Regions from separate parts of the Homo sapiens genome. Here region 2 is linked to region 1. The links come from fine-mapping of genetic effects on gene expression. Tissue or cell type: whole blood. Region 1 holds a variant in brackets; the other region holds the start of a gene. All regions are shown on one strand. Distances are between the middles of the regions.

Evidence for each region. PIP is the estimated chance that this variant, and not a neighbour inherited with it, causes the effect.
Region 2: ZHX2 starts here. The variant in region 1 is fine-mapped to the expression of ZHX2 in whole blood (TOPMed, PIP above 0.99).

Annotation. Positions count from the first base shown.
Region 1 is chr8:122,869,849-122,877,956 of GRCh38, reverse strand. The region is part of intron 2 of ZHX2 (zinc fingers and homeoboxes 2); the gene reads right to left. Among named protein-coding and RNA genes, the nearest start is that of ZHX2, 92 kb to the right of the region's middle. The variant C/T (reference allele first, on the strand shown) is at 4,496.
Region 2 is chr8:122,776,869-122,784,976 of GRCh38, reverse strand. ZHX2 (zinc fingers and homeoboxes 2) reads right to left here and starts at 3,322. Exons shown (of 4, transcript NM_014943.5): 1 at 3,031-3,322. ZHX2-AS1 (ZHX2 antisense RNA 2) reads left to right here and starts at 3,373. Exons shown (of 2, transcript XR_007061082.1): 1 at 3,373-4,804; 2 at 6,780-7,093. RefSeq lists silencers at 1,331-1,410, 2,191-2,320, 2,541-2,610 and enhancers at 1,471-2,005, 2,661-2,710, 3,878-4,377, 4,378-4,879.

The DNA of each region.
Region 1 (8,108 bases):
TTTATTTTAAATAAAAATCCAACGTATATTTTAAATAAATAGGTCATATTTGTTTAAGACAAGCTCCCACTTGGTACCAAGAATCTGCCTATTGTAGAGTCAATCAAACCAGATCGTGCTTCCTTCTCCAAATGCAGTCCATAGTTCCCCTCCTCCAGGTCTTAGCTCCCCCAAGTCCTCCTTCTTAGAATTCCTCTTCCACTTTCCAGTCCCATCCTCTCAGTCCATGAAAATGCATCAGCCTTCAAGTCACCTGCAGCCACTTCCCCGGGACAGGCCTCCCCAGCGAGGTTCCCGTGTTCCTGGAGTACCACCATTTGTGTGCTTTTTGTGATACTGTAGTTCGTGTTTTGATGAGGCAGCAAATCCAGATGAAGCTGGATTCAAATCCCCTCTTCCCAGCCTCAGGACCTAGGACAAGTTCCGCAAACCCACAGAGCCTCAGTTTCCTCATTTGCAAGGTGAGGATAACAATGATGACATAGTACCTATCTCACAGGGTTGCCTATGAAGATTAAATGATGTAGTACAACTCCAACACTTCACATAGTGCCTGGGATGGAGTAAGCACTTACTACATGTTAGCCATTATTATAATTGTATGCATGGTACCATGGGAACTTGCAGTCCTAGCTAGCATTTATTTACTGCTTACCATGTGCCCACTGTTTTAAGTATTTTAAGTACTGTTCTAGTGCTTCTTATGTGTTTATTTCATTTTAAACCTCATGGCAATGGTTAAGGTAGATAGTGTTATTATCCCCAATTTGTGGATGAGAAAATTGAGGCACAGAGAGGTTAAGTAAGTTACCCAAGGTCACACAGCTAATAGGTCACCCACTGCCATTGCCATCCTCTCTCCACTTTACTATAGTTATTCACTCATCTTTGCCATTGGGGATCTCGGATGTGTCCTTAATTTTTGCTTTCAAGTGCTTAGCACAGTGCCTGGCACATAAACCCACCAACATACTGATGGAGGTTACCATAGAGTAGCCTGTATGTCCTTCGTCTTTTCTCTCTTGACATTCACCCCCATTGAGGGCAGAGGCTTGGGTCCCCCAATCCCTGCAACTGCTTGTTGCTGAATTGACTGGGTGGGACAGATGGCTCCTTGCAGAGGAAAGATGGGCTTCTTCTCACCCTGGTGCACACAGGCAAGGGCTCTCTACACTCAGTCTTACAATCCAACTCGATTCAAGACGGGAAGCAAACAAGGCTTTCAGCAGCCTCAGGCGAGCAGGGGTGAAATTAGCCGATCGGTGTACAAAGGAGTGTTTAATAATGCTATCACGCTACCCCGTCCTCGTGGAGCCGTTGTGACATTCTGCATTAAAAAAGTGACAACCCTCAATTGCTGCTTGTAACCAAGGCCTGGCATCACGTTGGCTCCCAGCCTCCAGAACACTTGCATTTTCTGGCAACAAATGGCATCCAGGGATCAGGGGAAACTGATGGCTTCATGCAAAAATGTCCTGGCGGACCCTCTAAGCCCTTTGTAGTTCAGCTGCTCTTCTGCTCGTCTGTCAGGAGCATAATTTTCATTTAATATTAAGGAGCTGTTTGTTAAAATAATATTGTCATGGTAACGGGGTAAGGGGAGGGGGTGCTGAAATAGTCTGGTGCTGCCCGAATTGCAGCATATTAATCAAGTACTTGGTACTATTTAATGAGCTTCCCTCTGTGCTTCCTGGCAACAATGAATTTGGAGGACCCAGGCACTTGGGGTTTGCCCCAGTTGTCAGTGTCGAAGATGTGGGCTCTTATGAGTTCCTGGTGCTGTGTTGTGATGGATGGAGGGAGGGAGGGAGGGATCAAGGGAGGGGTGAATGGATGGGATGGATGGATGAGTGAGTAGGTGGGTGGAGGGATGGAGGGATGGGTGGGTGGATGGGTAGGTGGATGGATGGATGGGTGGGTGGAGGGATGGATGGATGAATGGGATGGATGGATGGATGCCAAAACCCAAATTATAGATGTCTGTGTCAGAGCTGTTTTGAAAGCTCTTCTATTTTTCAGTTGCCCTTTTACAGTGGAAATGAATTTTGTCAGAGAATTAGGGAAAAGGGGTCAGGGAAGAAAACAAGGGAAGGCAAAGATTTATCTTGCCTGAAGGGAGAGCTGATGGCAATGATAGGGAGGCAATGTAGAAAAATTCAGAGTCAGGCTGCCTACGTTCCAATCCTGGTTCTGTCCCATCTCACTGTGTAACCACGGGCGGGGGACCCGCACCCCCAGGCAGCTTCTGTTTCCACATGTGTAAAAGGGGGCTCATAGTCATGCTTATCGCAGAGGATTGTTGAGGAGATTAAAGCAGATTATGCTCAGTAAATTCCAACTACCACGTCTACTACTACCGCACCTGCTGTTGCTACCGGCGCTGCTGCTGTTGCTACAAATCTTATGAAAGTCACCACTGTGGGAAGGCCCCAAGGTGCTTTCATGACCCAAAGGTCCAATTGAGTCCTGATCATCTAGTACAGCACCCAACCCCAGGTGTGGTTGACACTACTGCCTGTGTTCTTTCTGAGGTCAGCAAACTTTTTCAGTCAAGGGCCAGACAGTAAATATCTTAGGCTTTGTGGGCCACATGCAACCTCGGTTGCATATTGTTCTTCTTTGTTTTGTTTGTTTTTTACAACCCTTTAAAAATACAATACCATTCTTAGCCCACAGGCCACACAGAGCCAGGCATAGTTAGCTGGTCCCTGCCCTGCTGCCTTCTGAGAAAAGACAAGAGAAAAGGAAGGCAAAGTAAAAGGATATATATATATATATATATATATATATATATATATATATATATATATATATATATATATATATAACAGAGTTTTCCTTCCTCTAAAAGCAGGTTGAAGACAAGCATAAAAAAGAGAAATCTGGATCCAGGAATTTGTTTGACTTTAAAAATAAAAATAAAACCAGCCATGGTGATTCACTATAGCCTTGTCTGCTCATTTTACAGTCAAGGAAAGGGAGGCATACAGAGGTGGGGTGACCTGCCCAAGGTCACGTTGCTAGTAAGGGATAGAGCTGGGACATAAACCCAGGTGGTCTGGCACCTGAGAACGTCCCCACTGCCCCATGCCCTGCTGCTGATGTAGAAAAGTATCTCCATTTTCTTCTATTCTGAATCTCCTGACACCCTCTATCAGCTGACTGTCTAGAAGCTCAGACTTTATGGTCTGGCAGAACTATGATCTACTGTTTACTGGGTCTGTGGATATTATCTTGGAGATAACTGACTTTTAGGTGCCTCTGTTTTCTCAGTGGTAAAATGGGGATGTTTACTGTACCTCTTGATGGTTATGGAGATTCAATGGCCGGGCATGGTGGCTCACTCCTGTAATCCCAGCACTTTGGGAGGCCGAGGTAGGCGGATCACTTGAGGTCAGCAGTTCGAGACCAGCCTGGCCATCGTGGTGAAACCCCATCTCTACTAAAAATACAAAATTAGCTGGGCGTGGTGGTGCATGCCTGTAATCCCAGTTACTCAGGAAGCTGAGGCAGGAGAATTGCTTGAACCCCAGGAGGCGGAAGTTGCAGTAAGCTGAGATTGTGCACTCCAGCTGAGATTGGCACTCCAGTCTGGGTGCCAAGAGCAAAACTCTTGTCAAGGACTTAGCAAATGGTATTGAGTGAGTGCTGGATGAATATTAGAACTGATGATTGTAACAATGCTGTGGTAGGCAGAGTAATGGACCCCCAAAGATGCCTGTGCCCTAATCCCTGGAACCTGTGAATATTTTATGTTAAATGGCAAAGAGGAATGAATATTGCAGATGGAGGTAGTCAGTGATCTCAACGCATGGTTCACAGGCAGTCACAGATTCAACTCCTTGTCTACTCTTTCCCCCTTCTCAGAACTGCACTTGACTAGTCTAAAACAGACAAGATTGCAGATGGAATTAAGGTTGCTAATCATCTGACCTTAGGATAAACAGATTATTCTGGATTATCAGGGTAGGCACAAGGTAATCATAAGAGTCCTTTAAAGATGTAGGAAGCCAATGAACGTCAGAGTCTGAGAAACTGCATGTTCTCATGTTCTGCAGCATAAGAAAAACTCAAGCATCCATTGCTGGCTTTGAAGATGGAAGGGGGCCCTGAGCTAAGCAATTCGGGAGGCCTCTAGAAGCTGGGAAGCAAGAAGATGGATTCTCCCTGAGAGCTTCCAGGAAGGAGTACACTTTGTCAATACTTTGTTTGTCACCTTCAGCTCAGTGAGACCCATTTCGGACTATGACCTCTAGTACCATAAGATAATAAACTGGTGTTAAGCCTAAGTTTGTGGGAATATGTTATAGCAGCCATTAGATCAAATACATTGTTGTCTGCAATATAAACCAGAGAACTCACCAGAGTGGGAGCATCACCTGAAGCAAAGATGGCGTCCTGCACCGGCCGCAGGACGAGGGGCCCTTCTCTGCATGCCCGCTCTGATGCTGCTCAACCAGTGACCATCTACTGAGTGCTGCACAGGGGCCAAGTA[C/T]GGACAGGCACCAGCTCAGGGGCTGCAGGGGAGTGGAGAGAAGTGGAAGCATACAGAGGATACTGCCCAAGCCCCCGGGGGAGATGACACTTCTGCACGTGGGGTTAGCATGCTACAGAGGGGGACCCGCATGTGGAATATCACTTCTGTGGAAATATTCCACTGCCTAGCCTTCACTCTCACATGTGTTCTGGGCCACAAAGGCCAGCTCCAGGTTCAGTGCTCCCCACTGAGTCTGCTCTGAGAATTACCGCCACGGTCACTCCTTTTTCTTAACGACTAGGCTTTTAAGGCAGTGCAGGACTTACATATGGTAATTTGGCTTTGGTTTATTCCCTCTCCCCAATTTCCTCACCACCCATTCTTGGTCCATGTGGTCCCACAATGCCCGGTGGGAGTGCGTGACACAGGCCTGGCCAGTTGGCACCGTGCACCCTTTGGCTCCAGCAGTTGGCTTGGGGATAGACAGGTGACCTGAGTTTCTCAATTCCAGGGCATTTGCTGGGAGCACTGTGGAAGCACAGCCTTCTTTCTACGGGGGTTGCTGAGAAAAGCTGCTGGCTGTCGGTGGGGGAAACCTGTCTGAGTAAATCCCACACAGAAGAAAGCTGAGCCGAGAGATGGAGAGACACGACGCCTGCAGACATTGCTTAGATCCAGCTGGGCGCAAAGCCAGGCCAGCTCAGACTTTTCAATTACACGAACGAACCGCCTTTTTGTTTTACACTTATGTCAATTTGAATTGGATTTCCATCTTGTAACCAAAAGTCTGACTAATATAATCAAATACCAACTTAAGTATTGGTATCTACGAGTTATAGGTGTTTTCATTTCCTTGGCCAAGAAACTTTGAGCTCTGAAATATCACGGAACGGGGGGTTAGGCCAGGGCACTTAGGGCAAAGTTTTAGCTGGACTATAGAGAAGGATGAAGTGGCCTCTCTCACTTCTTTCTTCATCTCTTTGGTTTAGCTTAGCCACACTGAGTCCACTCCTAATAGTGGAGGAAGAGGCAAAGGAAGCCTCTTATGCTATTGAATGGGGCCTGGTTGGAACTTGCCCCTGAATCTGTAGATGGACCAAATGCCTACAACAGGGTTTTCATATCTAGTCCATGAGGGCAAAGTGAATTTCATACGAGTGGCACATGGGGCAGTTGTAGCTCTGTGAACTGATGGAGCTACCGCTTTGGATCCTGCATCTTAAATGCTGATGCTGCCTCAGGGTTCTGTCTTCAGCCCAGCAGTCTTCTATCTCTGAGCTGTCCCTGAGTGAGTTCAGTCACCCCATAGGTTCACCTGTCACCTCCATCAGCTGTCTGTGCATCTTTTTTCTTCGCCTGCAGACCTGAAGGATGCGGCACATTCCCATTGGTCATGGTGATACCTGCCTATGCTGATTTTTCATAGGACAGCAGGACTGCAGGGGCCAGGGTCAGGGTTATAGTGCAGTTGGGTAGGATGATACGCTTTGAAAAGAACCCGGGTGATGCCCATTTCTTCCTCCTTAGGAACACATCTATAGGTTGGTAATCACCAGCCTGTATGTACTATTGATTCCCAATACATCTATCCCTTCCTGAGCTTGTTTCTGTGCTCCAGGCCCATGTTGGACATCTCTAGGATGATAAACACTAATCCTAAAATCAGTTTCAATGCTAGTACTAATGTAATGGAAACTCACACTTAGGAGCACTCCCTCTGTACCAGACATAGTTTTTTTTTTTTTTTTTTTGCCCTGAGAAAGGAATTTATTTATTATATGTAAAGGGTTTATATATATATATATATACTTTAAGTTCTAGGGTACATGTGCACAACGTGCAGGTTTGTTACATATGTATACATGTGCCATATTGGTGTGCTGTACCCATTAACTCGTCATTTACATTAGGTATATCTCCTAATGCTATCCCTCCCCCCTCCCCCCACCCCACAACAGGCCCCGGTGTGTGATGTTCCCCTTCCTGTGTCCATGTGCTCTCATTGTTCAATTCCCACCTATGAATGAGAACATGCAGTGTTTGGTTTTTTGTCCTTGCGATAGTTTGCTGAGAATGATGGTTTCCAGCTTCATCCATGTCCCTACAAAGGACATGAACTCATCATTTTTTATGGCTGCTTAGTATTCCATGGTGTATATGTGCCACGTTTTCTTAATCCAGTCTATCATTGATGGACATTTGGGTTGGTTCCAAGTACCAGACATAGTTCTTAACACTGTACATGTGCTGATCCTAAAAGCCTTCTCAGGTAGGTAATAATCACTACACAATCCTCATTATGCAGATAAGGAAACTGAGGCTCAGGAAAGTTAAACGATCTCTCCAAGGTTACACAGCTAGCACTTGGCTGGGCCAGGATGTGAATTGAAGCCACGTGGACTCCTGAGCCTACCTGTTAACTGCTACTCCATGCTGCTCCCCGTCCTGCCCGCTCCACCGGTTCATCAAATGCAACGCTTCCAGAGCCTTCAACACCACCTGCCACTTTTTCTGCTTTTGTCCACTACTTGGTTAACAAGATCAGTCTCTTAGATTCTCAAGCCAGGAACCTGAGGCTCACTCTGGACCTGTCCTTTCTCACTTTCTATCTTCACATGCAGTCCATTCTTTCTCTGAATTGGTGCTCTGGAGTGAGTTCCCCACTCCATTTCTGCTGTGACTGCTCAGTTGAGAGGGTCACTCCTTCTCTCTGGGGCCATCGGAACAGCCACCATCTCCTCACTGCTTCCTTGTCTTTGACTTCTCCTACCTGCAGTGCCATCTGCACTCTGACCAGTTCATCTTTCTCTTTCTTTTTTTTTTTTTTTTTTTTTTTTTTTTGAGACAGAGACTTGCTCTGTCACCCAGGCTGGAGTGCAGTGGTACGATCTTGGCTCACTGCAACCTCTGCTTCCTGAGTTCAAGCAATTCTCATGTCTCAGCCTCTCAAGTAGCTGGGATTACAGGCACCTGTCACTACGCCCAGCTATTTTTTTTTTATTTTTAATTTTTAGTGGAGATGGGGTTTCACCTTGTTGGCCAGGCTGGTCTTGAACTCCTGACCTCAGATGATCCACCCCCCTTGGCCTCCCAAAGTGCTGGGATTACAGGCGTGAGCTACCGTGCCTGGCACCAGCTCACCTTTCTAAGCCCAAGGTTGCATCATATCACTCCCTTGGTTAAAAACCTCTGAAAGCCGCTCATTGCTCCCTGCAAACAGCTCCATCCTGAGCACGGCACCTGAGAGCCTCTGCAGTCTGCCTCATTGACCTTGCCCATCTCAATTGCCATGTGCTCCCCCATGAGGCTCTACCTGCTCCAGCAACCTCAGACTCCCCAAAGCCTCCAAATGTCCAAGCTTTGTCCACCTCTGCCACCTCTGCCCAGGTTTCCCCTCCTTCAGGGTCTAATTGAAAGCCTCCCTGAACCCACAGGCAGAATGAAAGACTTTGAATCTGTGGGTAGGAAACTTACCATCTTGCTGAGGTGAATCCAGTAATCAATGACATACTGACTTCTGTGTTCATTTACTTATTAATTTTGTTTTTACTAACACTTTTACTCTGTGGTGGACACTACCCCAAGCACCTTCCACAGACTCATTTAGTCATCCTAACTACCCTATGAGGGA
Region 2 (8,108 bases), 93 kb after region 1:
ATAATGTCTGGAGCATGCAGTGCTTTGCGTTTCTGCCAGGGGGGCTCTGTCTCCCCAGCATTTCCATACATCTGGTTATGCGCTCTGCATTGCAACAGCAGAGTGTGTGTGTTCTGGGGGCTGCCACTCCGCTTACTAGCTGTTTGGACTTGGGCAAGTTAGCTAACTTACCTGGGCTTGTGCCTCCTCATCTAGAAAAAGGAGAGAATGAGAGTACTTACATCAGAGTTGTCATGAAGACAAAATAGTCTAGTCATAAGCACTTGGGATAGTGCCTGGCATACAAAAATGCTTAATGGCTATGGGTTCTTATTAGTATAATGAACATTATAGTTGCTGAATGAATAAATAAATCAACACACAGTTGCTAAATAAATGAATAAAGGAATAAAATCCAGGTAAATTCTGAAGTTCGGACCTCAGGACAGTGGCTACTGTTCCCTCTTTTCTGCTGGACCTGACCCTTTACTTTTTTATTCTAACTGTGACGTCGTGTATCTGAATGCTGCTACAATGGACTGGTTAAGGCTATGAAGTTAGGCCTGGATTTGCTTTTTGCTGTGTCGCTCAGGCAAGTTTCTTCACCTCTTGGAGCCTCTGTTTCCTCAACCATAAACGGAGGATAATAGTAGTACTTAGCTCACAGGATTGTGGTGAGAATTAAATGATAAAGCACGTAAAATATACAGCATTGTGCCTCACACACCATAACAGTGTTAGAAACTGTTATCAAACATTGCCATGATTATTTTTGATAAGTGTACAGCATCCCACCAAATCACATGGTCCTGATGTGGATGAGAAACGCCGGGTGGGGCCACCTTTCAGCATGTCAAGATACACTGCACTTACATCACAGGAATACCCTTTCTTCAGTGCCAACAAACAGTGGTGTTTTCCCCCTTCAAATGGACATTAGTTGAGATAGCTGATGTGCCCCAGAATCTTGGTTTCTTGCATTTTCCCCTGAAGCACAATCTTCAGGTGCATCCTTTAGCTGACAGCAAACCTGGCTAGAAGGAAAGGTACAAGTGCGCAAGAGAACAATCGCGGAGCAGAGCATTTAAACAGCGATGATATTTCCACACATCACCAGTCCAATTATTGTCAGTGACACATTTCAGCCTTACTTGTAGATTTTTTCCCTTCTGGCCTTAAAAGAAGCTGTGTATACAGCTTTACATAACTTTCCCTTTAAACTTAAACCTTTATGGTAGTCCCATTCAACCACTTGACAGCTCCATTAATCTATTTTTACTATTAAACATGCCATTTTACAAGATATTTATTCCACTTGGTCGTCATCCAAACGCTTTTTGACATTACTGCCCTGGGAGTGAACTGCTTAAACTCGCTGCCCTCATAAACAGAAAATCACCTTTTGACTCAAATCTTGAAGAGCTCTCAGAACCTCACCCCCTTCACTTCTACAGGCATTAATTTCTGCCATATATAAAGGAGAGAGTGAGTAAGTGTGTGTGTGTGTGGTTTTAAGAGGGTAATTGTGGGAGGTCTGGGCAATTCAAGAAGTGCTGGGGGAAGGAATCCTCTCCTCTAACTCCATTCTGCTCATCGGGGCCTGCCTGAGACCTGGAGATCTGGTAACTTAACAGAGAGAAAGTGATCAGAGAGCAGGTTGGGGAAGAACTCCAGGGCCTAAAAGGCAGTGTCCCAGGGGGCCAAGCTGAGCAACCACTCTTTAAAAGGGGAGGGGTCGAGGGAAAGTCCTTATTCATCGACTTCTCTCCTTCTCCACGCCCCAGACAAACAAAAGGCCACCGCGAAACAGTTGAAGGTAGAGACCTACTGGCTTTGAAGACTATCAATCAGGTGGAAACCTGAACAAATCACAATTTGGCTTCCTCATCAAGTTTTCTCCCCAGCCTGACAAACCCTCCTCCGCCGCCGCCTCCACCTCCTCCTCCGCCTCCCAGGCTCAGCACAGCTACGAGGCCAAAGGGACCGTCCTGTGATGCCTGCTGGTTTCCAACTTTCCGCTCATCTTCGTCTCCGCAGCCTCCTGCAAAGCGGCTGGGAAAAGGGCAAGTTTGCAAAGCCGAGGATACAAGTCCTGGGGAAGCCACAAAGAAGCTGCAACACCAACAAAGATTAACCTCTTGTGGGGCAGACGAAAAGCGCCAGCTGCCGTTCAGGGGGGCGAACGTGGGCTCGGGCTGGCAGAGGCTCCGGCCAGCTGGCAGCGGACAGCAGGGCCGGGGGTCCCGCGGCCGCCCTCGGCCCCCCGCCCCGCGCGGACTCCCCCTGCACCTGAGCGGGGGTGAGGACAGCGCCGCGCTCCGGCCCTGCCCCCGCCAGGTAGCTCGGCTGCCGCCCGCGCTGCGCGCCCGCTGCCTGCAGCCGCCGGGAGCGACGAGAGCAGAGGCAGCCTCGGCCCACGGCGTCATGCTTCCTGCCACCACATTACGGCGAATCGTCACCGGGAGAGGGGAGCGAGGGGAGAGGGGGAGGGAGGGGAGCAGACACACGCAGCCCCCCGCCTGCCAAAACGCGCGGAGACGGGGCCACGTCCCGGTGGAGTCCCCGCGGGACCTGCCCCGTTTGCACAAAGCGCCGCAGTTTGGCCAAGAAGGGAGGGAGACGGCCACGAAATAAATAAATAAAAACAGTCGGGTCTACGTAACGCCCTGTCGAAAGCGGACGCCATATTTTTTTGTGGCTTATGTCGACATAGGGAAACGTAGACATGTTTTTCCTCCTCCTCCTCCTCCTCCTCGCTCTGGCTCCCATTTATCCAAACTTGTAATCAAAACTCTTAAAAAAAAAATCTTCTTCCCTCTCTGTATCCGCTCATTTCCTCCCACCCGCAAAAAGAGCCTGCACACCCCCCCCCTTCCGTACCCCCCTTCCAATCACAAACCCGGCCAAGTCCCATTAACAACACATTTTCGGGAGCCGCGGCGGCGACGGCGGCGGTGGGAAAGTTGGGCTGGAGTGGCCGGCGCCCGGCGTGCGGGGTTTGGGGCCGGCGGCGCCGGCTGGGGGGCTCCGCGCCGAGGCGAAGTTTCTTACCTGCGCTGGGGCTGTGAACGCGGGGACCCGGGCTGGGAACGCGGAGACGCGGCACGGGCGTTCCAAAATGGAACTCTGCTGGCTCCCCCCACCCACTCCCCACTCCCCACCGGGCGCCCGGCTCGGGCTCCGTGGGAAAGAGGGGGAAAGCCAGCCTGCCAGCCAGACAGACAGACAGAAAAAGCCCCCGTACGGAGAACGATGGCCAAAATTTTTAAAAGAAAAAAAAAAAGGAAAAAAAAAGGGAAAAAAAATGCCTCGATCAGTGGGGAATCTACGCCAAAACCCACATGATCTGTAACGTCAGCATGCGTATTTGCATACGATACCACCACCCGAGCTGCCACCCGGGCTCGGGTTCCGCAGAAAGTTACAAAGTGAAATTCAGCCCCCTCCGGAGACACCGGCGAAATGTCATTTTTCAGGCAGGAGCTGGGGGGGAGGCTAGCCCTAAAGGCGCTGGTTACTGGCCAAGGTAGGGGGGCAGTAAATTAACTTAAAAGTCTGAGCCCAGTAACGGACTCGGTGGAATTTCTGCGAGAAGAGGAGGGGGAGGCGCGAGCGAGATCATTGAATATTAAGCACGACCCCGCGCGGCGGCCGCGGCCAAACCGTCTCCGTGCAATACCCATTTTCTTTATGAAAAGTTCAAGGTGTCACTGATGAGCTCAACAAACTGTTGATCTTGACCACGTGGAGTGGCGGACCGTGGGACCGAAGGGCGCGCTTGCAGGCCCGGCTCTGGCGGTACCCGGGCCCCGGGACCCTTTGCGTGGGACTGTGCGCGGGTGGGGCCACCACGCACCCTGGGCGCTGCCTGCGCCTTGGCCCGGCTTCAGGCTCAGGAAAATAATAATAACGATTTTAAAACTATGTTGAGCGAGACACATTTTACTCCCGGAATGATAATGAGAAGGCTCGGCGTAGGGAGGGGAAGAAGGAGCCCCCCACTTATATAACGACTTGAAGTTATATCACTTTTGCTTGGGGAGATTCCGGGATTTCCGCCCGCGCCAGGTCTGAGGCTGGTTAAAGATCTTCAAACTTTTTTCCCTTAAGAGCCAATAAACAAACAGACGCCCCAGGGGCCGACTTAAACTCTGGTAGAGCCCGAGTTCGCTGGAATTCTCAGATTCGAAGAAATGCACACGCCTGCGGTGCTCGCAGAGAAGTCCCTCGGAAGCTAGGCGGGTCGCTTTCGCAACTGGGACTCCAATGTTCCCAGTGGGAGCGGAGCTCTCACCGCGGCAGCCCCCAGGTTCCCCTAGGCGCCTTAGAGCAAAGGTGGCGGGGGATCGCGCTGCCCTTCGCCCGCCGGCTCGGAACCATGAACTTGTATTCCGGGCGCCGCGCTCCTGCCACAGTGCTCGGCTAAAGAGCTCTAAGGAATTCGGGATCTGGGTACACTTCGGGATCTCAGGCGGCAACCTGTCTGCGCCGCGCATTCCTGCCCAGATGTACCTTGTTTCCCCCTGGGCTGGCCTGTGGACTCTTGGGCAGCTCCCGGGCGGGGACGAGGGGATGCGGTCTGGGGGCTAGTTTAGAAGCTTCGAGCGCAGCGAGAAAACAAAGGGAGCCTGGGGCTGGGAGGCTCTGCGGAGTCCCCGCCCGCCCTGCAGATTAGCAGGCGCGTCGCGTCGGGGCTTCCCGGGCAGCTCTGCTCTGGGGAATTAGAACGAACTCTAGCGGCCGTTTGCAACTCGGCTGTGGGCGCGAGGGCATCAACAGGTGGCCGTGTGCAGCGGAGAGGCCAATGGCGAGGACCCGGACTGGGGTGAGGACGGCTGGCCTTGGGGCTGACTGGGTGGCGGATGCGCTGGGTGACCTTTTGGCTTTTTCATTTCCGAGGCCGGGGAGAAGGAAGTAGCTAAAAGGTTTTTGTAAGTTCTGCCCTAGGGCTCTAATTTCTGACATACCCCTTGACTCCCCAGAAATCCTTTGCAACAAAAATTAAAACAGCTCATATGCAAAACTTTCTTAATGGCCTGCACCTGTTTGTTCGGTTATTGCTGATGTAGGGTCTGTTTGTTTGCATTTTAACCGCCCATAAAACAAGATTCTATCCTGGGAAGGAGTCTCTTGCGTGATGCTCGCGGACCTGAAAGGCGACCTGGAGGGGCTCTTACAGGATTCTGTTAACTTCTTGATGACTGTAATCCAGCTTGGGCCACATCTTTCTCAGCCTCATTTGGTACCGGCTAAGAACCTAATTTACTTGCCATCAACATCAGAATTTACCGCTGCCTGATCTCCTCCCAACCTCTGCCTCACCCAGGGTGAACCAAAATTGTAAAAAGAAAAGAAAAAAATATGGGACCCTCCCCCCATTCCCCCGCCTTGTCCCGTCCCGCCGGCCACACCAACTTCAACATTTTTACATCGCTTACCTTATTATGCCCCTTGCAGGCTATTCCACGCCCTGCCCCCCCCCCCTTTAAAATAAGTCTAGTTCTGTCTGTTTCCATGGAAATTACCCAAACCTTAACGAAGCTATTCCTATTTTGAGGCTGCACCTCCTCTGGATGATCAATCACTTAGGAGGGTTTTCTATAAGCCAAGTTTCCCTTGCTGCCACCTCACTGCCACCTGCTTCTGGCTGGGTGACAGATTGTATGTAGGGTGGAATGGGCCAGGTGGGAGGGAAGCCAGGTAACCCTCTAAACAGTCTGCTGGGTTCTCATATCTTCAGAGCACTTGGATCTCATGGACACTAGCAAGGATGAGGGGCTTCTGATGTGTTGCAGTGTTTTAAAATTGTTCAGAGTTTAGCATGGACTGAACTTGCACCATATAAAGAGAAAACAATGAGGAATAAGACAAAGGTGGCTTTTGCTTTATGTGGTATGATCCCTGTTTGCTTGAAGTATACTCATGGAGTAGACAGACCGTTATCTGACAGTATTTAGGAGCTTCAGAATCAATAATGTTGGACAAGTAAATGTTCAGCCAGGAAGTAACGTATGCCACTTTCACTTACAACTCATTGGTCAGAACTAAACACAAAGTTAACTGTAAAGATCCATGGAAGTATTGTGTGCCTGGAAATGGAGAGAATGGGAAAGATTTGCACTAATATGATAGCACTAAGGACTATCATAAATAATAATAGCAGTTCACAATTATTGATCATTTACCATGTGCTGAGCCTTTTATATGTATCATCTCATTGAATCATCACAAAAATCTATATTTTGTCTTTATTTTACCGATATAGAAACTGAGACTTAAAGAGCTTAAGTACTGTACCTTGCTCGACATCACACAGATGCTAAGTAATGGAGTTGGAATTTAAGCTTAATTTTACCTGCTTCCCAGAGAATAGACTTTTAAAACACTGTCCTCAACCACCTTTGGACTTAATTGGTCCCCTGTTGTTGGGCATTGGGTAGTTTCAATTTTATTCCAATGAACAACCTTGTGTCAGATCTTTTGAATCATCTGCGATTACTTCCTTAGGATAAATTCCTAGGTACATATTTGCTTAGTTGAAATATACACACATTTCAAGAATAAAAACCTTTTGCAAAAAGTGAAAGCTTTAGGAGGTGTGGTAGTCTTCTAAGATGGCTTTTTTCAATCCTTTCCTTCCTTTTTTGAAAAATACATCACCATTAAGAGGTGGAGTTTACTTCCCCTCCCTTGGAATCTGGACTGGTCCTGTGATTGCTTTGGATGCAATGAAAGTGATATTCTGAGACATCTAAATCCAAGTCTTAAGAGACTGGCAGTTTCTGTTTCCTTCCTTTTAGGGTCCTGCTGCCATGCTGTGAGAAGCCGAAGTTTCATGGAGAGGCCACATGGAGTGAAAACAAAGGTGATAGGGACAATAGCTCCACCTGAGATCCTGATTAATACACAGACTTTAGCCATCTTGGATGCTCCAGCCTAATCGATCTCCCACTTGACTCTAGTCTCACCTGACATTATGTAGAGGAAAACCATCCAGCTCCACCTAGTCAACCCACAGAATAATGAGATGATCATAAGACTGTAGTTGTTTAACATTATTAACTTTTGGGGTGGTTTATTACACAGTGATAGATAAATAAAATGGGAGTTATTATCCGTGTCTTTATTTGCACATATATCTGAATATTTCAGATCTACTTCCCCCTGAACTCTGCAGGGTATAGGTAGCATTGTGAAATATTGGAGGCCAGGACAAGGGGTAGAGAGGCCTCTTGGTCCATGATGCCTGAGCTGGCCCACTCTCCAAATCAAAGCTTTTCTTGATTTTAGTTGTTGCTCATGAAGGATCCCGCGCCACAGGTCCCAGATCCTAAGCAAATAAGAACTCATTTATCAAGCATAGATACTCAGTAGGTACTGGAGTTAAGTTCCTGTTTGGTGTTGCCAAAAACAGAGGTTTCCATTATTTAAGGATATACACTGTGATAGGGAGTGCAAGTGCCCACCATGTACATGGCTGCCTGGGAGGTGCTTCTTATACTTTATGTAATTTAATCTTTTAAACAACCTTCTGAATAGTATATTGTCTCCTTAATTTGTGGGAGAAAACAAGTTTATAGAAGCTTATGAATTATCCATGGGCCATACAGCTGATAAGTTAGAAGCAGGTCTTGAGCCCACATTTGATTGATTACAAATCCTGCCTGCTTCCCACTATACTTGTGACTTGCAAATTAACTCATGTGCAAACCCCCTTCACCAATTTTGTCCCAGTAGCAAAGGAACTACCTATAGTATTTTTAATTTAACATTTTATTTGGCCAGGGTCATGGCTCACACCTGCAATCCCAGCACTTTGGGAGGCTGAGGCAGGTGGATCATTTGAGGTCAGGAGTTTGAGACCAGCCTGGCCAACATGGTGAAACCCCATCTCTACTAAAAACAAAAAAAAATTAGCCAGGTGTGGTGGTGAGTGCCTGTAATCCCAGCTACTCAGGAGGCTGAGGCAGGAGAATCGCTTGAACCGGGGAGGCAGAGGTTACAGTGAGCCAAGATTGTACCACTTCCAGCCTGGTGACAAAGCTAGACTCTGTCTCAAAAAAAAAAAAAAAAAAAAAAAAAAAGAAAACATTTTATTTACATTGATTCACATTTTTAAAACTTAAATG